3 separate regions of the Homo sapiens genome follow, and regions 1 and 2 are each linked to region 3. The links come from fine-mapping of genetic effects on gene expression. A gene starts in region 3. Each other region holds a variant in brackets. All regions are shown on one strand. Distances are between the middles of the regions.

Region 1 (9,426 bases), 370 kb after region 3:
TTGTTAGGGCGTTGGAGACAGGCTTTCATTTTTTAAAATGCCTTATTATTATTATTATTATTTTGAGATGGAGTCTTGCTCTGTCGCCCAGCCTGGAGTGCAGTGGCGCAATCTCGTCTCGCTGCAACCTCCGCCTCCTGGGTTCAGGCGATTCTCGTGCCTCACCCTCCGGAGTAGCTGGGACTACAGGCGTGCACCACCACGCCCGGCTAATTTTTGTATTGGCATCTCAGGTGATGCGCCCTCCTCGGCCTCCCAAAGTGCTGGGATTACAGGCGTGAGCCACCACACCCAGTCTAAACCTCTTTTTATAAATTACCCTGTCTAAGGTGGTTCTTCATAGCAGTGAGAAAACAGACTAATACACATCATAACCGAACGGTCCACTAGACAGTGCTAGTCTAGAGTCTAAACAAACCATTCTCACCTCCAAGACGGGGGTCTCCCCATGTTGGCCAGGCTGGTCTTGAACTCCTGATCTCTAGTAATCCACCCACCTTGGCCTCCCAAAGTGCTGGGATTACAGGTGTGAGCCACCAAACCCGGCCTTGCCTTCTTATTATGTAGCATATATACATAAACATGATATCTAATAAAATATATATGTAAGTTATGGAGCATAATACGAAGCGAGCACCCATAAACCCACCAGCCATCACCCTTGCCTCCAGCTTCATCCTTCTCTTCCCACCCCCATGCTCCTCATCTACTCCCCTGAATGCTGGTTTTTTCGTGTCTTTTCTTTTGGTTTTGTTTTGTTTTTTGAGATGGAGTCTCACTGTGTCGCCCAGGCTGGAGTGAAGTGGCACGATCTCAACTCACTGCAACCTCTGCCTCCCAGGTTCAAGCAATTTTCCCTGCCTCAGCCTCTGGAGTAGCTGGAATTACAGGTGCCTGCCACCATGCCTGGCTAATTTTTGTATTATTGTTATTATTATTATACATTTTTTGAGACGGAGTCTCGCTCTGTCGCCCAGGCTGGAGTGCAGTGGCGCGATCTTGGCTCACTGCAAGCTCTGCCTCCTGGGTTCATGCCATTCTCCTGACTCAGCCTCCCAAGTAGCTGGGAGTACAGGTGCCCGCCACCATGCCAGGCTAATTTTTCGTGTTTTTAGTAGAGATGGTTTTCACCGTGTTAGCCAGATGGTCTCAATCTCCTGACCTTGTGATCTGCCCACCTCAGCCTCCCAAAGTGCTGGGATTACAGGCATGAGCCACCGCACCCAGCCTAATTTTTGTATTTTTTAGTAGAGACCGGGTTTCGCCATGTTGGTGAGGCTGGTTTCAAACTCCCAACCTCAGGTGATCCACCACCTCAGCTTCCCAAAGTGCGGAGATTACAGGTGTGAGCCATCGTGTCTGGCCCTGAATGCTGTTATTATTCCCTTAAAAAAGTTTCAGTACTGGCCAGGCCTGGTAGATCACTCCTGTAATCCCAGCACTTTGGGAGGCCGAGGCAGGTGGATCACCTGAGGTCGGGAGTTCAAGACCAGCTTGACCAACATGGAGAAACCCCGTCTCTACTAAAAATACAAAATTAGCCAGGTATGGTGGTTCATGCCTGTAATTCCAGCTACTCAGGAGGCTGAGGCAGGAGAATCGCTTGAAACCTGGGAGGCGGAGGCTGCGGTGAGCCGAGATCACACCATTGCACTCCAGCCTGGGCAATAAGAGCAAAACTCCGTCTCAAAAAAAAAAAAAAAAAAAAGTTTCAGTACTTTATATGTATCTCTAAACATCATACTAATGAATTTTTCTTGTTGTAGAGCTTTATAATAACAATACCACCTGCGTTTGAATTCAAGGGAAATGAAAACACATCAGTGCAAAGACCTACACCCAAGGCAGCATCCTTCAAACTTGCGGAGAAGTGGAAGCCACTCAAATGTCATCAGCTGGTGAATGGATGAACAAAATGTGGCATATCGACATAGGTGGTTATTTGGCAATACAAAGGAATAAGGCTCTAATATATCCCACAACAAAGGGTGAAACCCCCAAAACAGGGTGCTAAGTGAAAGAAGCCAGACCCAAAAGACTACATATTGTAAGATTCCATGTATAGGAAATGTCTAGAAAAGTCAACTCTATAGAGACGGAAGTAGATGAGTGATTGCCTGGGGCTGGGGGTAAGAAGAAGGAGAAGTAACTGAAAATAGGGTTGAGGTTTATTTTTGGGGCGATAGAAACTTCTTTCTCTCAATTATGTTTCTGAGACTTTTTTTGTCGTTGCATAGAGCTGTAGTTCATTTATTTTCACAATTCTATAGTTTGTCACGTGATTATGTCACAATTTATTTCTCTGATCTCCTGTCAATGGACATTTGAGTTACTTTTTGTTTTTTGCTATTACAAAATGATTTGCCAGGAACATTTTGTACATGTCCCCTTGGTATACATAAGCAATTTTATATCTGTTGAATCTAATAGCAAGATATCAGGGCTTGTAAATTGTATGCCTTTTTTTCATTCCATTTTTTAGTGGTTCATTTTTATTGTATTTTACAAGAAGGATTATTCCCCAAACAAACTGGAAATTAACACAGAAACAAGACAGGTCCTCCACCACAGTTTGAGAGAAGTACTGCTGTAGGGAATACACTGGGAGTAAAGTCACTGGGCCAAGGCTGTGCAGGTGTTCAAAGGTATGCAAAAGTTCAAGGGTATCCAGATGTCAAATTGCTTTCAAAATAGTTGCACTGATTTGCACTCCCACCAACAGTGGATAAGAGTTCCCACATTGCTCCATAGCTTCACCAACACTTACTACTGTCCAATTTTTTAATTTTTGCCAATTTGAGGGGCATGACATTTTCATTACCTTGTTGCTGATGAGGTTAAATATCTTTGCATATGTTTACAGGACATGTGTGCTTTCTCCTCTGTGATATTCCTGTTTGTGTTCTTTGCCCATTTCTTTTCTTTTCCATACTGATTCTTAAGAGTTCTTTATATATTCTTGATATTAATCCTTTGTCATTTAAATGTGTTACAGATATCATTTCCAGTCTGTGACTTGCATGAATTTCTTTGGTGGTGGTGGGGGGGTGTCTTTTGATAAACAGGAGGTCTTACTTTGAATGCAGTTGGATTCTATCTCTTTTTTCTTTTTTGGCCAGCTCCTCTTCACTCATGCTGTTTTCCTGGGCAAAGCTCCCGCACGGCCCTCATCAAACCGACAAGCCTTTTTTAATCTGCACCCTGCTGCTTCCAGCCTCCTCTCAGTCCCACTTTATACTCAGTAGTTTATTCCAGAGCTGATGTTTTCACCTCTGAGTCTCTCTGCTGCAAAGACCCTCTTTTGTCTGCTTGTAGAACCCCCAAGTCATTCCTCAAACCCCACTCTGGCACAACCTCTGCTTCTCAGAAGCTCTTCCAGACCCCCAAGGCTGAGTCACTTCTTCTATTCAGTGAACCCCAAGCTGAGCATCGGATGATTGATAGTATATAGGTTTTTCATTACTCAAATGGGACAATTAGGCTGGGCGCGATGGCTCATGCCTGTAATCCCAGCACTTTGGGAAGCCGAGGCAAGTGGATCACTTGAGGTCAGGAATTCAATACTAGCCTGGCCAACTTGGCAAAACCCCATCTTTACTAAAAGTACAAAAATTAGCTGGGTGTGGTGGCGGGCTCCTGTAATCTCAGCTACTCGGGAGGCTGAGGCAGGAGAATCACTTGAACCCAGGAGACGGAGGTTGCAGTAAGCGGAGATCATGCCACTGCACTCCAGCCTGGGTGACAGAGCAAGACTCCCTCTCAAAAAATAAATAAATAAATAAAATAAAATAAAATAAAGATAAAATGGGATAATCACTACTTTTAATAAGTGAAATTTATTTAAAGTTAATTTTAAATTTCAAAAAATGAGATTCTTTAAGAATGGGATGCTTGGAAGGGGAAAACAATCGGGAAACGCTGCTCTCTGGCCAGTAATGTCTCTGGTATCCTCGACATCATCCTGTCCACATCCGAACGTTTTCAAGGACAGAAGCTCACTACTTCTGTGGGCTGAGCCACTGTGGTTGTTAGAAATTGCTTTGTTATGCTAAATGTGTCTCCTGCCTCTTCTTTAGGTTTATTGTTTTTCTTTTTCTTTTTTTTCTCTTTTTTTTTTTGAGACAGAGTCTCGCTGTGTCGGCCAGGCTGGAGTGCAGTGGTGCAATCTCAGCTTACTGCAACCTCCGCCTCCTGGGTTCAAGCAATTCTCC[T/G]GTCTCAGCCTCCCAAGTACCTGGGATTATAGGCATGCGCCACCAAGCCTGGCTAATTTTTATATTTTTAGTAGAGACGGGGTTTCACTATGTTGGCCAGGCTGGTCTTGAACTCCTGACCTCAGGTGATCCACCCACCTCGGCCTCCCAAAGTGCTGGGATTACAGGCATGAGCCACTGCCCCAGGCCAGGCTTATTATTACAGGCATGAGCCACCGCCCCAGGCCAGGCTTATTGTTTTTCACTGTGCTTTCTAGAGAAACAATGAGTCTTTTCTCTTTGACATGGCCACTGTCCAAGATGAGAGGTAGCAACCCCATGTCTTTTTTTTTTTTTTTTGAGACGGAGTCTCACTCTGTCACCCGGGCTGGAGTGCAGTGGCGCAATCTCGGCTCACTGTAAGCTCTGCCTCCCAGGTTCACACCATTCTCCTGCCTCAGCCTCCAGAGTAGCTGGGACTACAGGCGCCCGCCACCACGCCCGGCTAATTTTTTGTATTTTTACTGGAGATGAGGTTTTACTGTGTTAGCCAGGATGGTCTTGATCTCCTGACCTGGTGATCTGCCCGCCTTGGCCTCCCAAAGTGCTGGGATTATAGGCATGAGCCACCACACCCGGCCACAACCATGTCTAAGCATGTCTCCTTTTCTCCAGGAGAAACACAGTGCCTTCAGTGATTCCCGGGGAGAGAAGTTCTCTGTATCCTGATGCTCTGTCATCTTCTCATGGATGGACTGCAGATTTTCCACATCTCTCCTAAACTATGCTGCCTGTATTTAAGTAAAGCCTGTGGGCTGGCCTAACATGCGCAGAGGGAGCCCTGGTCCACTTAATGCAATTCCTTCCCTTGGTGCAGCCGAAGAGGGCTGAGGTTGTTCTGGCAGCCTCCTCACCTGCTGCAGCTCATATAGAAACTGAGAGTCAGGCCGGGCGCGGTGGCTCACGCCTGTAATCCCAGCACTTTGGGAGGCCGAGGCTGGCAGATCACGAGGTCAGGAGATCGAGACCATCCTGGCTAACACGGTGAAACCCTGTCTCTACTAAAAATACAAAAATTAGCCGGGCGTAGTGGCGGGCGCCTGTAGTCCTAGTCCCAGCTACTCGAGAGGCTGAGGCAAGAGAATGGCGTGAACCCAGGAGGCGGAGCTTGCAGTGAGCGGAGATGGAGCCACTGCACTCCAGCCTGGGCGACAGAGCGAGACTCCGTCTCAAAAAAAGAGAAAAGAAACTGAGAGTCAGTGCAAACCCTCAGATCTTTTCCGTATGAAAGATGGCCAGTTTGTCGATGTGCATCTGACTTCTCTCTTTTAAATGCTGACTGTCAAGTTCAATCTTAATTTCTTTTGACTCACTCAGCAATCCCATCTTAACTCTCACGTCTCATTTTAGCTCTTCCCCTCAGTTTTCGGTCAAGCACAAACTTACTAAGCAAGATGTTGTTTTGTTTTGTTTTGTTTTTTTTTTGAGATGGAGTCTAGCTTTGTCACCAGGCTGGAGTGCAGTGGTGCGATCTCAGCTCATTGCAACCTCCACCTCCCGGGTTCAAGCGATTCTCGTGCCTCAGCCTCCCAAGTAGCTGGGATTACATGTGCCCATCACCATGCCTGGCTAATTTTTGTATTTTTAGTAGAGATGGGGTTTCACCATGTTGACCAGGTTGGTCTTGAACTCCGAACCTCCAGTGATCTGCCTGCCTCAGCCTCCCAAAGTGCTGGGATTACAGGTGTAAGCCACTGTGCCCGGCTGTTAGGTGTATTTCACCACAGTAAAAAACAATAAATTACAAAAAATGGTGACATGCCAGGGACAATGCAGTGTGGCAACTCATCTGGCCCTGTCTCCAGTGTACCCTGCTATAGGATGTCAGGCCCAGAATCCCAGGAAGCAGGGGAGGAGAGGGAGGTACCTCTTCATTTCAGGCCCAGGATACAGCCCAGCTCTGCCGTGGCTGCGGACAGTGACAATCTATCTCTGCCTCCCAGGCCAGGAACATGTGAGTAAGCTTTGACTCATATCTGTCTTTTCTCCTATTGCCTAATCTTGCCTGGTCTTAATTAAAAATGTCTCCTTCCCTTTCTTACACTCACTCATTCCTCCGCAGGTTTTCACCGAGACCTACAAAGAGCAGTCACCGACCGTGCCCAGACACCTTGGTGAGCAGGGACAGCCTGGTCGCACTGTTATAGGAAAGGGGTCCCGATCCAGACCCCAAGAGAGGGATCTTGGATCTTGCTCAAGAAAGAATTCAGGGCGAGTCTGCGGTGCAAAGGAAAAGCAAGTTTATTTAGAAAGTCAAGTGGTGAAAGAACAGCTACTCCATAGACAGAATAGGGCATTCCCAAAAGTAAGAGGAGGAATGCATCCACCCTAGGTACAGTGCTTGTATATATATAGGATAAAAAAAGATCATGGGGAGATGTGCTCTGCTACAGGGTTTGTGATAAAGGATTCTTTTTTAAAATTACCAAATTTTGCAAGAATCAATATTATTATCTTTGAAGCAAAATTAGGAATGCCTTTGTTCTCGAGATATCGGGATATCTGGACACTCCGAAGTTTGGGTTTGTTAGTAAACATTATTAATCCATTTCCTTAACTGTAAACATCTAGAGGCTGGGAATAGCCTTCTGGGAATGCAAGTCCCAACTTCATTTTCCTAGCCCTCACTCAAGATGGAGTCGCTCTGGTTCAAATGCCTGTGATACCACCTCTCCAGGCTCCCGGGATGTTTAAACAAGCCACTCCCAGAGAGGCGATATGAAAGGTGCAGGGCAGGCCCTGAGCCCTGGCCACAGGCGATGCTTAAGCTGAGCCCTGAAAGGAGGAGTAGGAGTTCAGCAGGCAAGTTGTTAGAAGACTCGCATTTCAAGCAGAAGGTCTGGAAAGACGTGCTGACTGATCGGCAGGAGGCTGTGAGCTGTGGATGATACGGAGACTGCAGAAGCTGAGGCCATGGAGCTAAGGCGGGCTCAGACTTCCTCCTGAGGGCAACAGGTTTTTAGCTGGGGAGGACCATGACCAAATCTGCCTTTCCCAGTCACCTCTCTGATCTCTTTGATGCAGTGTAGATCTGTGCTTAGCAAACTCAGAAGGCCCTGTCACCACCAGGAAGGAAGAGACCCCACGACTGAGGGCAGTGGTAGGTTTAGGGGCTGGCTGCAGGTGGGACCGAAAGGGATAGCTGTGGACTGGCTGGCTTTGGGGGGGGGGTGAAGAGTGGAGGGGGTGATGATGCCTTCTATGGGGAGGGGGACATGCTAGAAACAGTTTTGGGGGAGGTGGGAAGGAGGGTAAGCAGATGAAGGATTTGGGTCTTGGACATGCTGCTAGTTTGGCTTTGACGGTGCAGGTCCTCTGCTATGATGTGAGTGGCTGTGCCCGCCAGTTCCTCTTCTCACTCCCTTCTAGGGCTATGAGATTTGTGACCCTTTCCTCTGCCTGCCTCTGCCCCTGCCCATTGGGACCCTGCTGGACCAGGCATCCATCCTATGGAAATCTCCATGAAGCGTCGACCTCCCTGCCCCCCAGGCATTGGGTGAGTGGCAAGTGAGAGCTGCTCACAGGGCATCAAAGGGGTTCAAAATAGCACCCAAGGCCGGGCATGATGGCTCACGCCTGTAATCCCAGTACTTTGGGAGGCTGAGGTAGGCGGATCACCTGAGGTCAGGAGCTCAAGGCCAGCCTGGCCAACATGGAGAAACCCCGTCTCTACTAAAAATACAAAAATTAGCTGGGTGTGGTGGTGTGTGCCTGTAATCCCAGCTACTTGGAGGCTGAGGCAGGAGAATAACTTGAACCCGGGAGGCAAAAGTTGCAGTGAGCAAGATTGCACCATTGCACTCGAGCCTGGGGAAAAAGAGCAAGACTCCATCTCAAAAAAAAAAAAAAAAAATTGCACCTAAGCCCAAGCCCAGAAGGTGGCCCCGAACCTGGGCCTTCCTTTGAAGCCAGGCCTGGTATTTGCCAAGATCGTGCCTCCTGCCCCCACATCACCAACGTTAACTGCCCTCCATTAGCTGGTGCTGCCTGGGTGCTGCGTGGGCGCTGGCGTGTGAAATGGCAACATGAGGCCGTGTCTACTGAGCCAGGCATCTTAGTGCTTTACACAGAGAAGTGAAACCTCCTAGCAACCCTGTGAGTTAGGTACCATTTGATTCCCATTTTTCAGATAAGGAAACCAAGGCACAAAGTGGTTGGTAGGTGGACTAAGGTCACCCAACAAATGGAGGCAAAACGGGACACGTGTCCCCACCAGGAGCCACCAGCTGTCCCTCCTTCTCCATCCCACAGACTGCGTGAAGCCCTGGGCTACTCTGGCTGGATGGTATCAAGTGTCACATTCTGTGGAGCCAGGATGTTCCTCCAATCCTTTAATCCCAAATCTTTTATTGTGTTTGTTTTGTTTTGTTTTGACAGAGTCTTGCTCTGTCGTCCAGGCTGGAGTGCTGTGGTGCAATCTCAGCTCACTGCAACCTCTGCCTCCTGGGTTCAAGTGATTCTCCTGCCTCATCCTCCCTAGTAGCTGGGACTACAGGTGCGCACCACCAAGCCCGGCTAATTTTTGTATTTTTTGTTGAGACGGGGTTTCACCATGTTGGCCAGGCTGGTTATGAACTCCTGACCTCAAATGATCTGCCTGCCTCAGCCTCCCAAAGTGCTGGCATTACAGGCATGAGCCACCATGCCTGGCCTAATCCCAAATCTTAAACCTACTTTTCCTGGTTCTGCCTCTAGTGAAATCAAAGATCCCTCCGCTGCTGTCCCTATGGGAATGTGGACAGGGATGACACCTCTCGCCAGCTCTGGGTGGCCCCTCTGGTCTGGTCCTTTGCTGCCCAGCTCCTCAAGTCCTCCTCAACACCCCTCTTCTCCAGCCCTGCTGCCACTCTCCCCACCTGAGTACAGACCCTCATCATTTCCCACTGGGCCCCCTCTTCTCGTCCCCCCAGTCCCTCTCCCTAGTCCATTTATTTATTCTATTTTGAGACGGAGTTTTGCTCTTGTTGCCCAAGCTGGAGTGCAATGGCGCGATCTCAGCTCACTGCAACCTCTGCCTCCCAGGTTCAAGCGATTTTCCTGCCTCAGCCTCCCAAGTAGCTGGGATTACAGGCATGCACCACCACACCCGGCTAATTTTGTATTTTTAGTAGAGGTGGGGTTTCTCCATGTTGGTCAGGCTGGTCTCGAACTCCCGACCTCAGGTGATCCACCTGCC
Region 2 (10,910 bases), 170 kb after region 3:
TAATCCCAGCACTTTGCGAGGCTGAGACAGAAGGATTGCTTGAGCCCAGGAGTTTGAGACCAGCTTGGGCAACATGGCAAGACCCTGTCTCTACAAACAATTAAAAAAAAAAAAAGAAAAGCCAAGCATGGGGGCACACGCCTGTAGTCCCAGTTACTTGTGAGGCTGAGATGGGAGGAAGATAACTTGAGTCTGGGAGGTTGAGGCTGTGGTGAGCTGTCACTGCGCCACTGCACTCCAGCTTGGGTGACAGAGTAAGATCCCATCTCAAAAAAAAAGGGAAATAAAGGAATAGGTGGTAACAAAAGGCGGTGAGGCAACTGCTACAAATGCAGGAAATTCAAAGTGGAGAAACAAAGTGACTGACAGTATCAGCGGAGGTGATGAAGACCAGGTGATATAGTATCCTGGAGCAGTGTACTTAAGGTATGATATCTGGGCTGGTGCCAGTCCACACACTGGTATACTGCTCGTCCTGCTCTTCCACCAAGTAAGTAAAGAAATGGAGAGGGCCCTTTGAAAAACTTTAGAGCAATTTGGCAGAGTGATTTTATGTTTATTGAATCTACTAATGAAAACTGTAGCCTTATAATTTATATACCTCTAGTTTATTTTTCCATTTCACTTCTCAGTTTTTGTATTTAAAAAAAGAACTGGTACGGCCGGGCACAGTGGCTCATGCCTGTCCCAGTACTTTGGGAGGCCAAGGCGGGCGGATCACAAGGTCAGGAGTTCAAGACCAGTCTGGCCAACATGGTGAAACCCCTTCTCTACTAAAAATACAAAAATTAGCGGGGCGTGGTGTCGTGCACCTGTAATCCCAGCTTCTCGGGAGGCTGAGGCAGAAGAATTGCTTGAACCCGGGAGGTGGAGGTTGCAGTGAGCCGAGATCACGCCACTGCACTCCGGCCTGGGCGACAGAGTGAGACTCCATCTCCAAAAAAAAAAAAAAAAAAAAAAAAGTCCATGACAGATTTGAAATCAAAAGAACAAAACTGATATTTCATCACATATAGTTAGAGGAACACTGTTCTAGAGGTGAGGATTCCTGAGCACAGAGCAATTTTGGATCATAATTCTTCCATTTATTAAGAAGCCTAAAGTCTAGGTGAGGAAGTTCTGGAGGAAAGATTTCATCACCAAACATTACCATTGTTACTCTTAAATGTAAATATTTATAAATGCAAAAAACAGGAGCAGTTTCTGTGTCCCAACAGTAGCAAAAATGGTTATTTAATTAAATTATGGTATATCGACTCAAGAGAAACATGTATCCTTACAAATTATAATTACAACATAGAAAAATGTTCACCACAGGCTGGGTGTAGTGGCTCACACTTGTAATCCCAGCACTTTGCAAGGCTAAAGTGGGTGGATCATTTGAGCTCAGGAATTCAAGACCAGCCTGGGCAACACAGTGAGACCCCATCTCTACTAAAAAAATTAAAAAATGGCCGGGCACAGTGGCTCACGCCTGTAATCCCAACACTTTGGGAGTCCGAGGCGGGTGGATCACCTGAGGTCAGGAATTTGAGACCAGCCTGACGAACATGGTGAAACCTTGTCTCTACTAAAAAATACAAAAATTAGCCAGGCATGGTGGCGGGCACCTATAATCCCAGCTACTCGAGAGGCTGAAGCAGGAGAATCATTTGAAGCCAGGAGGCGGAGGCTGCAGTGAGCTAAGATCACACCATTGCATTCCAGCCTGGGCAACAAGAGCAAAACTCTGTCTCAAAAAAAAAAAAAAAAAGAAAAGAAATGGTCAGCATGAGCAGCATTCCACCTAAACTTTGTCCTAGTCACTACACCCACACTTATGCTGCCATGTTGGCTGTCCACATAAAGAAAAGGAAAGCCTGTCAAGCATAAGAAAAGGAAATGGTGCCAAGAAACCTTCAGAAACATGCATCTGAAGAAAACTGGTAGAAGAATCAGTAATTGGAAGACAGATACAGATTGCAAGCATTCTTGTGAAATGCGGGCCTCCAGGAATCCTTCAGGAGAGGAAACTGTGCATAAGGGATAATTCCCCACTTCTGACACCCTACAGACTGCCTGCCATTGGGTAAAGCAACAGCTGATAAGTTATAAGAGGCCCCCAACCCATGGCTTTTTCCACTGAACAAAAGGAAAAGTTTGTTTCCTACAAGTGTTCCAAGGGAAAGGCAAGGTGTTGTGGGAGTTGGGTTTATAAAGCATGACAGTCTCAAATCTTTGACAGTCTTTCCTAATCGGCACTGCCAAACGAATCAAATTTCTCTTGTTGGGGTCAAAATCTAATTGAAAAAACATAAATTTAGAGCACAAGAATTTTATTCTTTATCATAAAGTATTTTCCTTCCTCCCTCACCAAAAGTCAAATAACCTTTAGATGCAATGTTAACACTGACAATCTGGCTTTTCGGTGAAATCAAATGCAGAATGTTCACTGGCCACTGACAAGTGGGCTGTGCTGTGCTTATGCTCTCAATTTGGCAGTGGCTGAGGAACGAAAATGTCTGTCAAGGAGGCGAGACAAGTTCCTGAAGGAAAGCAAGCTTTGTCTTCAGCTGCCAGACCATGACAAGGGCTACTTACATGGTTTCTGTCCTGGGACAACAGCAATATCCTAAGGCTTTTCATGCTTGAGCTTCTATCTAAAATGTCAATTGCTTTATCAAGATCATCTTGGTTTTTCAGCAGGATGGAGAGCTGTGATACAAGACATAGAAAAGGAAAATAATATAAAACAGAAGTTTATCTCAATGTTTCACTTTGCAGAAATAAAATAAACAAAAAATAAAAATACATTTGGAGGAAAACAATCTCACTGGATACTATGGGGTCTTAAGAGATCTAGTTGAAACCATACAGATTTTTTTCTCTAAATGTACAATCCAAAAATTTGTAGTACCTTTACATAGTTGTGCAACCATCATCATAATCCAATTTTAAAACATTTCCAGAACTCCAACAGGATCTCTTGTGCCCATTTATAGTCACTCCTCCTTCCCACCTCCAGCCCCAGGCAACCACTACTCTACTTTCTATCTCTATTGATTTGCCTTTTCTGGACATTTCATTCCATTTAGACTCATACAATTCATACATATTCAATTCAATTCATAAAGATTCAATCTTTTTCATCTAGCTTCTTTCACTTAATGTTTTTTAGTTCATCCATGCTGTAGCATACCTCAGTACCCAGTTGTGAGATACTTTCTGAGAAGAGCTGCCTCTCCAAAAACACTAATTTACTTCAAAATATCAAGTTGCAAACAGTTACAGCCCCCATATTCTTTTCCAAATTAAGTAGGATCATGTCCCACTCTACTGCCAATTGTGCTGACATTAATAGAACAAGCAGAAAAGGAAGAGAAGGGGTGGAGGGATGGTCAGAGGATGAAAATTGTTATACAAATAAAAACACAAATTTAGACTGCATAGCACGGTTTAATTATCTTTCTGTTTAAGGGCAAAGTCAGTGACTAGAACCTGAAAACTACCTCCTCCATTCTCACGGAGCTTTTCCCCCTTTGCTTGGCACTTCTCTCTCCTGTCGCCATATGAAGGATGTGTTTGCTTTCCCTTCCGTCATGATTGTAAGTTTCCTGAGGCCTCCCCAGCCATGCTGAACTGTGAGTCAATTAAACCTCTTTCCTTTATAAATTACCCAGTCTTGGGCAGTTTTTTACAGCAGCGTGAGAACAGACTAATACACTCATACGTTCCAGTGAAATATTAAATAGAAGGTCCCTGAGGGTACAAATAAGTCTCACTCACTGCAAAAAGCAGAGCATGTTATGAATACTTGGTATTAAGAGATTCATAAGATGCAAACGTATGCCTTGCTTAGGACCTAGCAAATGTCAGATCTTATTCTTATTCTTCTTATTTTTTGGAGACAGAGTCTTACTCTGTCGCCCAGGCTGGAGTGCAGTGGCACAATCACAACTTGCTGCAATGTCCACCTCCTGGGTTCAAGTGATTCTCCTGCCTTAGCCTCCAGAGTAGCCGGGATTACAGGTGCACACCACCACTCCCCACTAATTTTTTTTTTTTTTTAGTAGAGACTGGGTTTTGCCATATTGGTCAGGTTGGTCTTGAACTCCTGACCTCAAGTAATCTGCCCACCTCAGCCTACCAAACTGGTGGGATTACAGGAGTGAGCCACCACGCCTGGTCAGATTTTATACACGTATGGTAAACACAAAATCAAGCAAAAGTCCAATTAACTTACACAGTTCCCAATTTATAATACAAGATTTTTTTTTTTGAGACAGCATCTCCCTCTGTTGCCCAGGCTGGAGTGCAGTGGCACAATCTCGGCTCACAGCAACCTCCGCCTCCTGGGCTAAAGTGATCCTCCTGCCTCAGCCTCTCAAGTAGCTGGGATTACAGGCATGAGGCACCACACCCGACTAATTTTTGTACTTTTTGTAGAGATGGGGTTTCACCATGTTGTCCAGGCTGGTCTTGAACTCCTGAGCTCAAGAGATCTGCCTGCCTCAGCCTCCCAAAGTGCTGGCATTACAGGCATGAACCATCGCGCCTCGCCAAAAACAGTACATATTTAAAATAAAATCTCAAAACTACTTATGGAATGGGAGAATGTTCTGCAAATCATATTATATTGCAAAAGAATTTCTTCCTGTGTGACATTCAAAGTGGGAATAAATAAGAATGGTTGGGAAGGGAGTTAAATAAAAAAAACCAAGTAGGCTGGGGATAGTGGCTCACACCTGTAATCCTAGGAGGCTGTGGCGGGAGGCTCACTTGAGGCCAGGAGTTTAAGACCAGCCTGGGCAAAATAGTGAGACCCCCATCTCTACAAAAATTTATTTTTAATTAGCTCAGTGTGGTGGCATGTGCTTATTGTCCCAGTTACTGGGGAAACTGAGGTGGGGGGATCACTTGAACCCAGGATGTCAAGGCTGCAGTGAGCCATGATTGCACACTGCACTCTGGCCTGCGCAACAAAGTGAAACCCTGTCTCAAACCAAAAACAAAAACAAAACTCACAGTGACATATCACTTTACACCTACTAGGATGGCTATTAAAAGAAGAAAATAACAAATGTTGGTAAGGATGGTGGAGAAACTGCAGCCCTCACTGATATGGTTTGGCTGTGTCCCCATCCAAATCCCATATTGATTTGTAGTTCCAATAATCCCCATGTGTTGTGGCAGGGACCCAGTGGGAGGTAACTGAATCACGGGGGTGGTTATCCCATGCTGCTGTTCTCCTGATAGTGAGTGAGTTCTCACGAGATCTGATGGTTTTATAGGAGGCTTTTTCTCATTTGCTTGGCCCTTCTCTCTCCTGTCGCCATGTGAAGGATGTGTTTGCTTTCCCTTCCATCATGATTGTTAAGTTTGCTAGGCCTCCCCAGCCATGCTGAACTGTGAGTCAATTAAACCTCTTTCCTTTATTTGTTTATTTAAAAATAAAATAAAATAATTTTTTT[TA/A]ATCGTTTTTTGAGACAGAGTCTCAACTCTGTCTCAAATGAGCTGCAATCTCGGCTCATTGCAACCTCCGCCTCTCGGGTTCAAGTAATTCTTCTGCCTCAGGCTCCTGAGTAGCTGGGACTACAGGTGTGCACCACCATGCCCAGCTAATTTTTATATCAGCAGCAGAGACGGCGTTTCACCATGTTGGCCAGGCTGGTCTCGAACTCCTGACCTCGTGATCTGCCCGCCTCAGCCTCCCAAAGTGCTGGGATTAACAGGCGTGAGTCACTGCACCTAGCCACCTATTTCTTTTATAAATTACCCAGTCTCGGGCAGTTTTTTACAGCAGAGTGAGAATAGACTAATACACTCATAAGTTGCTAGTGGGACTGTAAAATTGTGCAACCATTATAGAAAATCTGGGCAGTTCCTCAAAAAGTTAGAGTTATCTTATGACCCAGCAATTCCACGCCTAGGTATATACCTTACAGAATTGAAAACATATGTTCATTTAAACACTTGTAAACAAATGCTCATAGCAGCACTATTTAATCACCAAAAAATGAAAACAACCCAAATGTCTATCAATAGATGAACAGATACACAAAATGTGGTATATCCATAAATGGAATATTTATTATTCAGCCATAAAATAGAATGACATACTGACAACATGCACAGATGACCGTTGAAAACATACGCTTAGTCAAAGAAGCCAGACAAAAAAGGTCACGTACTGTATGATTGCACTACACGAAATGTTCAGAATAGGTAAATCCAAAGAGACAGAAAGATAAGTGCTTACCAAGAGCTGAGAAGAGGAGAGAAAGGGGAATAACTGCTAATAGGTACAGGTTTCTCTTTGGAGTGATAAAAATGTTCTGGAGGCCAAGTGCGGTGGCTCATGCCTGTAATCCCAGCACTTTGGGAGGCTGAGGCAGGCAGATCGCTTGAGCTCAGGAATTTGAGACCAGCCTGGGCAACATGGTGAAACCCTGCCTCCATAAAAAATACAAAAAAATTAGCTGGGTGTGATGGTGTGTGCCTGTAGTCCCAGCTACTTGGGTGGCTGAGGTGGGGGAATCGCTTGAGCGCAGGAGGTCAAGGCTGCAGTGAGCCGTGTTTGCACCACTGCACTCCAGCATGGGCGACAGAGCAAGACTCTGTCTCAGAAAAAAAAAGAAAATGTTCTGGAATTAGATAGCGGTGTTGGTTGCACAACTCTATCAGCATACTAAAAACCACTGAATGGTATACTTTTAGATGATAAATTTTTTAATCTCAATAAAACTATAATTACAAAGAGATAAATAAATAAAATCTCAGTAGATTTTTCATTTGGGATTCTTAGATCTTGACAGTGCAGGGTTTAAAGGGCAAACAAAAGAACGGAATTGAGGGATTTTAAATTAATCAAATGTAAGTTAGTCAACTCCTGATCATTAACATTAGTAGAGTATGTTAAGACATGTATGAACTAAAATAATAACAATGATTTATATTTGGCTTTAGAATAAAGAAACATCAGGAATTCTTAATGGAAATATTAACTGAAAAAGAAAAGAGTACTAAATGATTCAGAAAAGTCTTTACTAAAAGAAAAATTTTAACTCCTCATCAAATAAAATAAAACTACACAGTGATGATCTGGTTCTCAAAGGGTCATGATGTTGCCCAGCTTTCTTGTCTTGCACCCCTAACTCAATTTCCTCGAGGTACACATTCTTTACTCAGCATAAATACACTGCAAAGCACCAGCCTAAGCTGATTGTAGTCTGTAATATTCTTCTTGGAGCTGGGAAAGCAGCCCAGAAACTGACATTCAAAAGAATTCCTTCCTGGGTGATATTCAAAGTAGAAGTAAATAAGGACCGTTGGGGTGGAGTGAGGAGGAGGAGGAGTTAAAGAACTTATTGGAGCAGGTGCTAACATTTGAAACAAATAAGCTCCAATCAGAAGAAACTCTAAGAGAAGAATCCTGCATTTATGACTGTAATAGATGACCTACTCACTGGTTTTTCACACCTCCCTAGCCCCTGCTAAACCCTCTGCTTCTTGTTAAGGCTGTGCTGGGGGGAAAAAAATAAGATACTCCTACAAAATGTAAAGGAGACAGTATAAGCCCTAGCCCTGGTACCATACCTGATTCCACCATGGAATATTAGAGCTATCTGCACTGAATGAGTAGGGGGAATGGAGATGGCTGAGATGGCTGAGTAATCTCCCATGTAGTAAAAAACAGAGATCCCACAGTTGTTGGAATTAAGAAAAGGGGGTCTAGAAAATGAAAACCTGCAGATGATATTAGAGGAACAAACTTTAAAGGCTCTGGTAAACAGAGAGAAAAAAGGTAGGCATCTGCCCCTCTTGTCCCTGCCCCATCCATCTGCCTTCTCACCTCATTGTTCATGTAATGTAGATCAAGAGGTTGTCCAAATACTGTTGTCACCTTGTGCTCCACATCTTCATATTTCACAGGCCGGCTGAACGCTATAATTCTGAAAAGAAACAGAAAGAAAGGTTGGTTAATTGTATACTTAAAACGTAGGGTTTAAAAAGCAATGGTCTGAGTATATTCTTCCTTTCTTCTCAACATAGGATTCTGTTTTCTTTCACTCAATTTGCCTTTTCCCGATTGTTTCCTTTTTTCCTCTTCTCTACCGTTACCTTTCACCCTCTGAGCATCTATCAGGTTTGACAACAGTACCCACAACTATTGCTCAATCCCAACCATTCATCTACCACTTCAGCTTAGACTCTTCTGCCAATGACAGAAGAGGCCACTAGATTTAAAAACTATGTTCCAACGATGAGAACACACAGACACATGGAGGGGGAACAATACACACTGGGGCTGTTGGGACTTGGGGAAGAGAGAGTATCAGGAAGAATAGCTAATGCATACTGGGCTTAATATATAGGTGATGGATTAATCTGTGCAGCAAACCACCATGGCACATGTTTAACTATGTAACAAACCTGCACATCCTACACATGTACCCCAGAACTTAAATAAAAGTTGAAAGAAAAAAATTATTTAGGAAATAAGGTAGAAAACGTACAGACTGGAGTAGCAGTCCTGAAAACATGGCCTCAACTCCTAAGGGACTCAACTCTAGGACTTGAAAGGTCTTTTCCATCGTTCATCTTTGAGATGCCATAAGAATCTCCATACTGATTTTCCTCAGAATTAAGATTTTCTACTACAGAGTCACAGGAATTCCCCCTTGAGTTAGTGATATGCCTGATCAGTTTTCTTAACCAGTGACATATCTGTGCATGTAACTAGTATTGACATTGAAGATTTTCTGGAGAGACTCATTAGGTCAGTTCAAAGAACAATTTCTACAAATATAAGGTAGAGTAAGGAGTCATCCAAAGAGGTGTAAAATCTGATTTGTTATTAAATACTTCAGCAAAATTTAAAAGTGGGAATTGATAAAACAAGACTGGGAAAATGTTAGTAATGTTGAAGCTGGGTGACAGGTCCATGGGAGTTCAGTTTAATACTCTGTCTACTTTTGTGTGTGCTTGAAATTTCCATAATAAAAAGTTGTGGGGTTTTTTTGTTTGTTTGTTTCAAAACAGAGTCTCGTTCTGTCACCTAGGCTGGAGTGCAGTGGCAATGATAACGGCTCACTGCAGCTTCAACCTCTGGGGCTCACGCAATCCTCCTGCCTCAGCTTCCCAAGTAGCTGGGACTACTGGCATGCACCGACTAATTTTTTATTTTTTGTAGGGATGGGCCTCAATAAGTTGCCCAGGCTGATCTCAAACCTCTGAACTCTGGCAATCCTCCCACGTCGGCCTTCCAAAGTGCTGGTATTATAGGTGTAAGCCACCATGCTTGGCCAATAAAAAGTTTGAATGAATGTATTAGGTTGAACTATATGAGACTACTGATGGCCGACCATTTTTGATATATAAAAGTGGCAATTTTATATGGGTTCAACCCAATACTCTAGAACAGAAATGACTAAAAATAATCAGAGATAACTGAAGAAAAGAATATAAGAAAGAAACTCATACACACACATACTCTCAAATTTATATAAGAAAATACAGAATTAAAAAAAAATCTTGGGGGCCAAGCACTTTGGGAGGCCAAGGTAGGAGGCTCGCTTGAGGCTAGGAGCTCAAGATCAGCCTGGGCAAGATAGTGAGCCCTCCTGCCTACTAAACATTTTTTTAAAAAATTAGCCAGGTGTGATAGTACATGCTTATAGTCTAAGCTACTTGGGAGGCTGAGGTGGGAGGATCACTTGAGCCCAGGAGATCAGGGCTGTAGTGAGCTGTGATCATGCCACTATACTCCAGCCTAGGCAACAGAATGAGACCCTGTCTAAAAAAAAAAAAAACTCTCTCTCTCTCTCTCTCTCTCTCTCTCTCTCTCTCTATAAGAGACAGAGAGAGAGAAGGTCTTCCTAACCATAACATAAAATACAGAAGACAAGCCAGGCAAGATGGCTCATGCCTGTAATCCCAGCGCTTTGGGAGGCTGCGGTGGGTGGATCACCTGAGGTCCGGAGTTCAAGACTAGCCTGGCCAACATGGGAAAACCCCATCTCTACTAAAAATTTAAAAATTACCTGGGTGTGGTGGCACATGCCCTGCAATCCCAGCTACTTGGGAGGCTGAAGCAGGAGAATCACTTGAACCCAGGAGGCAGAGGTTGCAGTGAGCTGAGATCACACCACTGCACTCCAGCCTGGGCAACAGAGCAAGAGACTCTGTCTCAAAAAAATAAATAAATAAACTTCTGATTGCAAAATAAGCCATCAACAAAGTTAAACAAATATCAAACTTTGAGAAAATACTTGTAAAAAATCAATAAAAGACAATCTAATAGAAAAGGCAAAAGATTAGACAATTCACAGAAGAATTGTAAGTGGCTAATAAAACACATGAAAAGATGCCCAATGTGACTGGAGAAATGCCTATTAAAACAACCTTCATCTCTTAGTACACCTAAGCAGGATAAAATCAGACTAGTGTGTGTTGGAGCAAGCAGTATTCAGCCATGGGCCTGCGCAGTTCTTGTCCTCTTCCATGCTGAGAGGAAGAAGTGTGTGGTTCTTTCTCATCTTCCCTGCTCCCCCAGAGTGGGAAGTGGTGTAACCAGAGGAAGAAGCAATAAGCCACAAGAGAGAGGGATCTAAACCATTGGGTTTTAATAAAATCTGACCAGATAATTTCTTTAATGTTCTTCTGTAACAGGTTGGCTCAAATCAGTGAGAAGCATAAAAGCCTTCATCATCTAGAACTGCATCTGCACTATTCAATATGGCAGCCATTAGCCACATATGACTATTTAAATTTAAATTGATTAAACTGAAAATTGGTTCCTGAACAGGTACAGTGGCTCACACCTATAATCCCAGAACTCTGGAAGGCCAAGGCAGGTGGATAGCTTGAGTCCAGGAGTTTGAAACCAGCCTGGGCAAAATGGCAAACCCTGTCTCTACAAAAATTACCTG
Region 3 (7,804 bases):
TTGCCATTCCTACAAGCCCAGCCTTGCTGCTGGTTTTTTCCTTTCCTTTGGGTATTTGCACTATTTTGGGAGCAAGTTTTCTATGTGGGAGCCACTTTTTTTGTACAGGGGTAAGTTGGGGGTTTTCAGGGAGCCTGTTAGGTGCCTCCTTCTTTTCTTTCCTCAATCTATGCAAGCGGCTCTGGCCGCCATCATCTCCTGGGATGCCAGAGGGCTGCCTCTCCAGCGGCTTGGGCCGGGGAGGGGACACTCCAGTTCTCTAGCATGGCCTGAGGTATGGGGTATGTGCATGTGGAGGCCAGGGTAAGGTGAATGGGGAGGCTGGGAGGACTGGTGTTGCCCTTTGGAGCTTGGTGAGGAGGGTGGGCCTAGGGCTTGGCGAGTGCCACATCTGGCAGGTTTGGAAATTTCCAAATAAATCCTTTTGTCTATTGGTGGTGCCTGGACCTGGTCCTTGAACAGCACAGCCCTCATTAACAGACTGGAGTCCTAGAGGACTTGGCCCACAGAGCTTTATTGGAGAGATACACACAAAGGCTGTCCACTCACTTCCATAATTTCTTGATGGACATGTTTTTCTCACTGTCCTTCTGCATGACCTAGGGGTGGGAGAGAGAATGAACATTAAGTTACGAACACACACATGCCCTAGCCCACTGCCCCAGAGCCACCACTGGCAAAGGCACAAAGATGGAGGCCTATACCTTGGCTACTGCCATCTCAAAGTCCTCCTGAGTGACATGGACTCGCCGTTCTCGCAGGGCATACATGCCAGCTTCTGTGCACACGCCCTGAACAGGAAAAGGAAATTGAGGCCCCACTGCTGTGCCCCTCATCTGTGGCCCTTGAGCCCAGAGCTTCCTGCCTCTGCCCTGTTTTCAGTGGGTACTCCAATTACCTTCACTTCAGCCCCTGATGCTCCTGGCATGAGCTCAGCAATTTTTCTCAGGTTGATCCCCCGGGTCAGGTTCATCTTCCGAGAATGAATCTTCAAAATGTCCAGCCGGGCCTGGAGATGGCAAGGAAAAGCCTGAGCCCCACACCCCACCCCCACAGCCAGAGCCACTTTGCACAGTGTCCATCACAAACCTCCTCATTGGGGGGTGGGAATTCAATTTTTCTGTCAATGCGCCCTGGGCGAAGCAGTGCCGAGTCCAGGATATCAATCCTATTAGTAGCCATGATAACCTGAGCAGAGAAAGCAAGTGGGGATCAGCTAAACCTCTTCCTCAGCCTGCGTGGCACCCAGGCCTTCCCTGGGCCCATCCCAAGGATGCTACCACCTTACCTTGATGTTCTTGGTGGCCTCAAAGCCGTCGAGCTGGTTGAGCAACTCCAGCATCGTGCGCTGCACTTCACTGTCCCCTCCAGAACCCCCCTCCAGCCGCGAGGAGCCGATGGAGTCGATTTCGTCCATGAAGATGATAGATGGAGCATGTTCCCGTGCCATGACAAACAGCTCCCTCACCATTCTTGCCCCTGTGTGGAGGCCGAGCTGGTGTTAGGGAGCTTATTAGCTTATTAGCTCTCTAACCCCCTACCCCTACCTCTTGCTTCTCACATTGCTAGCCATGGTTACCTTCCCCTATGAATTTCTGTACCAGTTCAGAGCCAGAGACACGAATAAAGGTACAGTCCGTATGATGAGCCACAGCCCGGGCCAACAGTGTCTTCCCAGTGCCTGGAGGTCCATACAGCAGCACTCCCTACAGGGGAACAGCAGGACTCAGGGCAGAAAGCTACACCCCTCATTTCATTCAGTGAACATTTACCGAGTGCTGGGTCCCTTGCTAGATGTTAGGGATACAAAAAAAAAAAAGGAACATCAAGGTCCCTTCTATCCAAACCACCTCACCGCCCTAGGAACACTTCCCCAGCCACTCTTTTCAGGGGGAGGGCCAGCCCAAGCAAGATGCAGCCTATCCCGGTGCCTCCCCAACCCCTGCAGTAGGGCTGGCTGGGGCAGGAGGAGTAAGTACAGCTTGGCCCTCTCAGAGAAGCCCTGCTCCTCACCTTGGGCTGAGCAATGCCCAGTGCTTCGAAGAGCTCAGGATGCTTAACAGGCAGCTCGATCACTTCTTTGATCTCCTTGATCTGTTTGTCCAGTCCACCAATCATCTCATAAGTTGAATCTGGTACTTTCTCCACCATCATCAGTGACACTAATGGGTCTACCTTGTTGGGCAGGATCTTGTGCAGAGTGTAGCTGTCATTCCTTAGAGCCACCCGGCAATTGGGTGTCACCTGGGTGAAGGGGGCGAGTTTCAGAAGTGGTACAGTAAGAGCTGACCCCACCACCACCACCACCTCACCTGCTACACTCACATCATTGATGTCAATGTTTTTGTCCACGTCTACAACAAATTTACCTTCAGGATGTACCTAAAGAAACAAGGGCTCATGACCTTCCTTGACAGCCACCAAATCACTAATCCTACCCAGGAAGACCTATGAGAATCCCACAATACCTTGACAGAACACAGAACCCTGTCTCCCGAGGCTACACACAAAGGGGTGGGAATGCAGTGGAGACCGAGCTGGTCCCTGGGGTCATGCTGCTTTTACCTTGACCAACACTTTCTTCTTATCCATGGCCCGGACTACTTCCCCCACATAGGAGCCCTGCTCCTGCAGCAGCTGTAGCTCCTCCCGCAATAGGCGAACTAGATGGCAAACAGACACAGTGGTCACCTAGCTACTCCTTTGGAGTCTCCAGGACCCAATTCTACGTGCATGAGCTAAGCATCACTCTTATTAAAGGAAGGCCAAAGGTCAAAATTCATGTATTTAAGGAGGCTACAATAGGGCTCAGGAAAAAGAGATGCATGTGAAACTACTAGATGATGACAGGGAGAAAACAGTAAGCACTGCTGTGAAGACACAGTGCAGGGAGATAAGGACAGACCTCAGACAAACTGCCCACATGCGGCTTCCCATCTTTCTCCACTCACCTTTAGCATTTAGTTCGTTCCTCTGTGCCTGCAGCCTCCGGAGGTTTTGGCTCTTATCATTCACAATCAGCTGTGGCAGACAAGAGACAAATTCCATTATTCAAGGGCAGGAGACAGGAGGAGGTAGGATCTTGGCCAAGACCTCACAGGTCTGAATGAGCTGAGGGAAGGGCACAGGGCACCTGCATGTTGTTTCAGATTCTCCAGTATGATCCTAATGACCCTGCCCTGTCCTTCAAGAGTCCCTCTGGACCTTACAGCAGCCATCAAAGAAGGCTGCTTGTCCAATACTGGTCCAGGAGTAACAGAATCTAATGGAGAAAAGTTACAGCTGGCTCATGTAACACCAAATTTCTTGCAGGAAGGCAACAACACCTGGTGGAAAGATTGTTAGGTGAGAAACCTGAGTTCTAGCCCAGCCGCTGTCAATCAAAAGCAAAGTAAAGGTAAGACAATCTATTTTTAAAAATCTAGATCTGTTACCAAACGGCACATGGGTATAGCATCAGCTACCCTGCTTCAAGACTACTAAGGTGAACGAATAAAAACACATGAAAAAGCATTCAAAAATGGTAAACTAAACATAATACCTGCAAATGCACTTGGAATTCAGAATTGTCTTTTGTGGCTTTCCCCCATCCAATTTATATTACAGTTGACACTTGAACAACGCAGGGGGTTAGGGTGAAATTGAAAATCCATGGACCTGTCCAAAGTTAAACTACTAACAGCCTACCGTAACAGTATAACGTAACACTAACAGACTACTGTTTATGTTGTCTGTAAGGCTTACTACTGGAAGCCATACCTTACTGCTGGAAGCCTTACTGGTAACACAAACATTTGATTAACAACATAAACGGTCCTTTTTCTATGGTTTAGCGCTTTAGGCTAGGGCTCTGGGTTGCCCAATTTCTTTCATTCAGTCTCTATGGAATTAGCATTGTCCAGATCCCTCAATGATGCCCTTCCTCACATTCTCACTTCACCCTCACCCAACCTCTTGGTGATAAATTTCAACTCCTGAGCTTATGTTTCCCTTTTATAAGAATCCTTTTCATTCGGGCTTCTTCCAAAAGGGTTGACCTTTGGCTAGAGGTACCTTTACTATTAAGATTTGACTCGAAGATGTGTAACAAACTGTGAACACTAAGACCCTCAAAGAGATGGGACTGGAGGAGAACAAGAGATTGCTTACTTCTGATACATACACCCTACTAGCTAAGAAACAAACAAGAAAGGAGAAGCAGCAGCTTCTTCCACTGCACTCCCAAAGGAATTAGATGGATTTGTGGAAGTCCGTTTCCATCCCCCATCATCACCCTTCCTAGCTCCCTCTGGAGTCCGTCCTCACCTGGAGTTCTTCAATCTTGGACAGATAATATTGGCGGAGTCCGCTGCCTGCCTTCCCCTCCTCCAGCTCCATCTGAAGACACAGAGTGAGTCTTAAACGACAGGTTAAACATCCGAGGGGGTAAAGCCACTTGCAGGGCACTTTGAATAAGGCTTGACACCAGGTAGCTTTGCGTAGTAGAAAAAGTTTGGACTTCGGAGGCTCAGGATCTGGGTTCTAATCCCTCCCTCCCTTGGAACCCTCCATTTTCCCAGGACTAAAATAAAAGAATGGGAACGCCGCCTACCTCATACGACTTTTAGGAGGACCGAGAGGCGATATGATATAGACGGGGGGCGCTTTGCACTGCGTGAAGTGCTCTACAAGCCCGAGGTGTCAGTACTGACGAAGGAGCCAGCGGAACGGAGCCAAAGGACTGGCGTCCCGTCTCCTGCGACCCGTGGGCCGGCCATTCCCGCGCCCATCGCTTCCCTCACTCACTCCGCTTCTACCGCGTCTTCCTCTCCCAGCCTTGCCCTGACTCACCGAGGGCGGCGCTGACACAGCAGATCCGGTCGCAGGCAGCGTCCAGCATGGACTGGTCCAGGCACCTCCGACCCACCCGACGCTCCTGCCCCGGCCCGCTCTCCACTCAGATCACGCTCGCTCCGCACCCAGCCCCGTAACCTGCCGGGCCGCCACTGCACCCGCCATACCTGCTCTGGTCCGTCAAGCGCCATCTTCTCTCTTCAGCAGAGACCGCCGGCATCCGAGCCGTCTTGGCGCGCAAGCGCGGAAGCGGAGGATTGGGACCTGAAGACCAGGCAGAGAAGAATTCCGGGTCAATGGGCGGGGTGTGCGGCGAGACCACACTAAGGGAACCATGATGGGAGGGGCGGCTACTCGAGTTCAGGGGCTTTGGAAGGGGATGAGGAAGGAGTAGAACTCCTCCTCAGTGTTGCCTCATTGAAACTCTGTTTATAGTTCTTGTGATATGCCTTCCTAGTCTCAACTTTCAACTTACAAAACCCAAGGACAGAGTATTGAGAACAATCTAGGGCCACACTCAAAATGGCGGAAAACCTCGAGCCAGGGACGCAGGGGACGCAAGCGGAAGCGGAAGTAGTTAGCTGCATACTTGTGCGGTTCCAAGTGTGGAGAAAGCGGCTCTGGGTCTAGGTAGTGTGCGGAGAGGGGCGCGGGGTGGAATTGCTGCGGGAAGTGGGAAACTGGAAGTGGGAAACTGGAAGTGGAATCTGGTGCTCCGGAAAGAGACGTTCCCAACTTCTACTTTCTCCCCAGATTGAGGGATACTCCCCCTTTCCACCATGGGCAAGAAGGGCAAAGTTGGCAAGAGCCGACGAGACAAGTTTTATCACTTGGCGAAGGAGACGGGTGAGTCCGGATTCGCTCAGTCTGCGAGCGAGCGAGCGATCTCTGCCCGGTTCGCCTGCTCTTTGCGACCATTATGTACCTCTCCTGCAGAAGGGGTGGTCGGTTGCGAGGCCGGAGAAATCCTACTAGTGAAGCAGTTTGCGCACTTGGTTGTTTTGTCCAGGTTACCGTTCCCGATCTGCTTTCAAGCTGATCCAGCTCAATCGCCGCTTTCAGTTCCTGCAGAAAGCCCGAGCCTTGCTGGACCTGTGTGCTGCGCCAGGGGGATGGTTCGTAACACTCGCCACAGGTTGCTCCTGGTGGCCGCTTTCTGGGTTCTGAGCTGGGATGGCTTCCAGTTTCACTGCGGGAGGGGAACCCGAATCCCGGTCCTCTTGGGGGCCGTTTCCTTTCTTGATTGCAGAGAAAGGGCTTGGAATACGTGCCTATGATATGCTTTGGCCAGTACACGTAACACCAGGGATGAGAGATCAGTTGCCAAGAGGGGGAAAAGGATGGCTCTAGGTTTTTAAATTTCTGTTCCTTTTATAGGCTGCAGGTAGCTGCCAAGTTTATGCCTGTATCCAGCCTTATTGTGGGTGAGTAACGGACAGCTCTCCTTGGTGTTTTAAGGGGTGGGTGTATAAGGTATTTTGTCCTGTATTTCTCTCCTCCCTGCTTGAAGCAACCTTTTAGAATACTCTGACCTGATTTCTTCCAGGAGTGGACCTGGTTCCAATCAAGCCTCTCCCCAATGTGGTGACTCTCCAGCAGGACATCACAACAGAACGTTGTAGGCAGGTAATAGGAGTCTCTCTCTTCCTTCCCCCTTTATACGGAAACATCTACATCCCTGAAATCCTCTAAAGGCAAGTTTTTCCTTTTTACCGTGCTTTGAGCACGTTCTTGCCTGACATCTGTACGACAAGACCTATGGCATTCGTAGTGTCCACTCCAGGCTTTATTTAGAGTCAGGGATAAAGGTGTTTGGAATTGGGAGAAGGGCAGAGATCTTTAGTGAAGTCTTCTCCTGTGAATTCAGTGTCAGACTGTAATCTCCATGAAGGTAGAGACATACTGTTTTTGTTTACTATTGTATCTCCTGTGCCTGGTACTGCATTTGGCCCATGATGGGCACTCAGCAAATGACTAGATGGACAAATGGCTGAACCAGGGCCATTCCAGTGTTTCTGTTTCCATAGTTCCTTTTCTTCTCTTTAGGCCCTGAGGAAGGAGCTGAAGACCTGGAAGGTTGATGTTGTGCTCAATGATGGGGCCCCCAACGTTGGGGCTAGCTGGGTCCATGATGCTTACTCACAAGGTACAGGGAGTGTGGTGCTTGGAGATCAGGTGATGGTGGAGGTGGGCGCATGCCCTCCTGGGCTGCAGAGTGCGTCAACTAATTGTCTCTATCCTACAGCCCATTTGACACTGATGGCTCTACGTTTGGCTTGTGACTTTTTGGCCCGTGGTGGCAGCTTCATCACAAAGGTTTTCCGTTCTCGTGACTATCAGCCTCTGCTATGGATCTTTCAGCAGCTGTTCCGCCGTGTCCAGGCCACCAAGCCCCAAGCCTCTCGCCATGAATCTGCAGAGATCTTTGTAGTCTGCCAAGGTGGGCATCATTTCCTTTCTCTTGATCCAGGCTCCCAACTCCCAAAGCACACTTTTTAATATATCCTGTCATTTTTAGGATTCCTGGCCCCTGACAAGGTTGACAGTAAATTCTTTGACCCCAAATTTGCCTTTAAGGAGGTTGAAGTTCAGGCTAAGACCGTTACTGAATTGGTTACTAAGAAGAAGCCAAAGGTGTGTTTTGGGGAATGGGGTCACTCTTGGGTCCTGGAACTCTAGGGAGGTTGGGCCTGGTGGGTCCTACAGGTACCTTAGAAGGGCCTGACCAAGCTTCTCTCTTTTCCTTCCTAAGGCTGAAGGCTATGCTGAGGGTGACCTCACTCTCTATCACCGTACCTCAGTCACTGACTTCCTCCGAGCTGCCAACCCTGTTGACTTCCTCTCCAAGGCCAGCGAAGTGAGTCTCCAGCCTTGAGGGACATGAGGTAGCCCCAGAAACATGGCCTGAGGATCTCCCCTGACACCTTTCCATCCTCCCAAACAGATCATGGTAGATGATGAAGAGTTGGCA

Evidence for each region. PIP is the estimated chance that this variant, and not a neighbour inherited with it, causes the effect.
Region 1: its variant is fine-mapped to the expression of PSMC5 in breast (GTEx, PIP above 0.99).
Region 2: its variant is fine-mapped to the expression of PSMC5 in whole blood (TOPMed, PIP above 0.99).

What each region holds. Positions count from the first base shown.
Region 1 is chr17:63,457,750-63,467,175 of GRCh38, reverse strand. No RefSeq gene overlaps it. Among named protein-coding and RNA genes, the nearest start is that of ACE, 15 kb to the left of the region's middle. RefSeq lists an enhancer at 6,265-6,334. The variant T/G (reference allele first, on the strand shown) is at 4,212.
Region 2 is chr17:63,649,578-63,660,487 of GRCh38, reverse strand. It overlaps MAP3K3 (mitogen-activated protein kinase kinase kinase 3), which reads right to left. Exons shown (of 16, transcript NM_002401.5): 4 at 7,832-7,931; 5 at 2,581-2,694. Among named protein-coding and RNA genes, the nearest start is that of MAP3K3, 33 kb to the right of the region's middle. RefSeq lists an enhancer at 5,074-5,123. The variant TA/A (reference allele first, on the strand shown) is at 5,451.
Region 3 is chr17:63,824,711-63,832,514 of GRCh38, reverse strand. It overlaps PSMC5 (proteasome 26S subunit, ATPase 5), which reads right to left and starts at 5,084. Exons shown (of 12, transcript NM_002805.6): 1 at 5,001-5,084; 2 at 4,306-4,377; 3 at 2,952-3,021; 4 at 2,566-2,663; 5 at 2,326-2,382; 6 at 2,014-2,244; 7 at 1,580-1,706; 8 at 1,289-1,479; 9 at 1,090-1,188; 10 at 899-1,009; 11 at 705-791; 12 at 496-599. The coding sequence starts at 5,024. The coding sequence ends at 546. It overlaps FTSJ3 (FtsJ RNA 2'-O-methyltransferase 3), which reads left to right and starts at 4,852. Exons shown (of 21, transcript NM_017647.4): 1 at 4,852-5,463; 2 at 5,587-5,679; 3 at 5,843-5,948; 4 at 6,211-6,257; 5 at 6,380-6,459; 6 at 6,880-6,979; 7 at 7,079-7,273; 8 at 7,352-7,467; 9 at 7,586-7,690; 10 at 7,778-7,804. The coding sequence starts at 5,613. It overlaps SMARCD2 (SWI/SNF related BAF chromatin remodeling complex subunit D2), which reads left to right. Exons shown (of 13, transcript NM_001098426.2): 13 at 1-434. RefSeq lists enhancers at 4,694-4,743, 5,124-5,403, 4,540-5,739.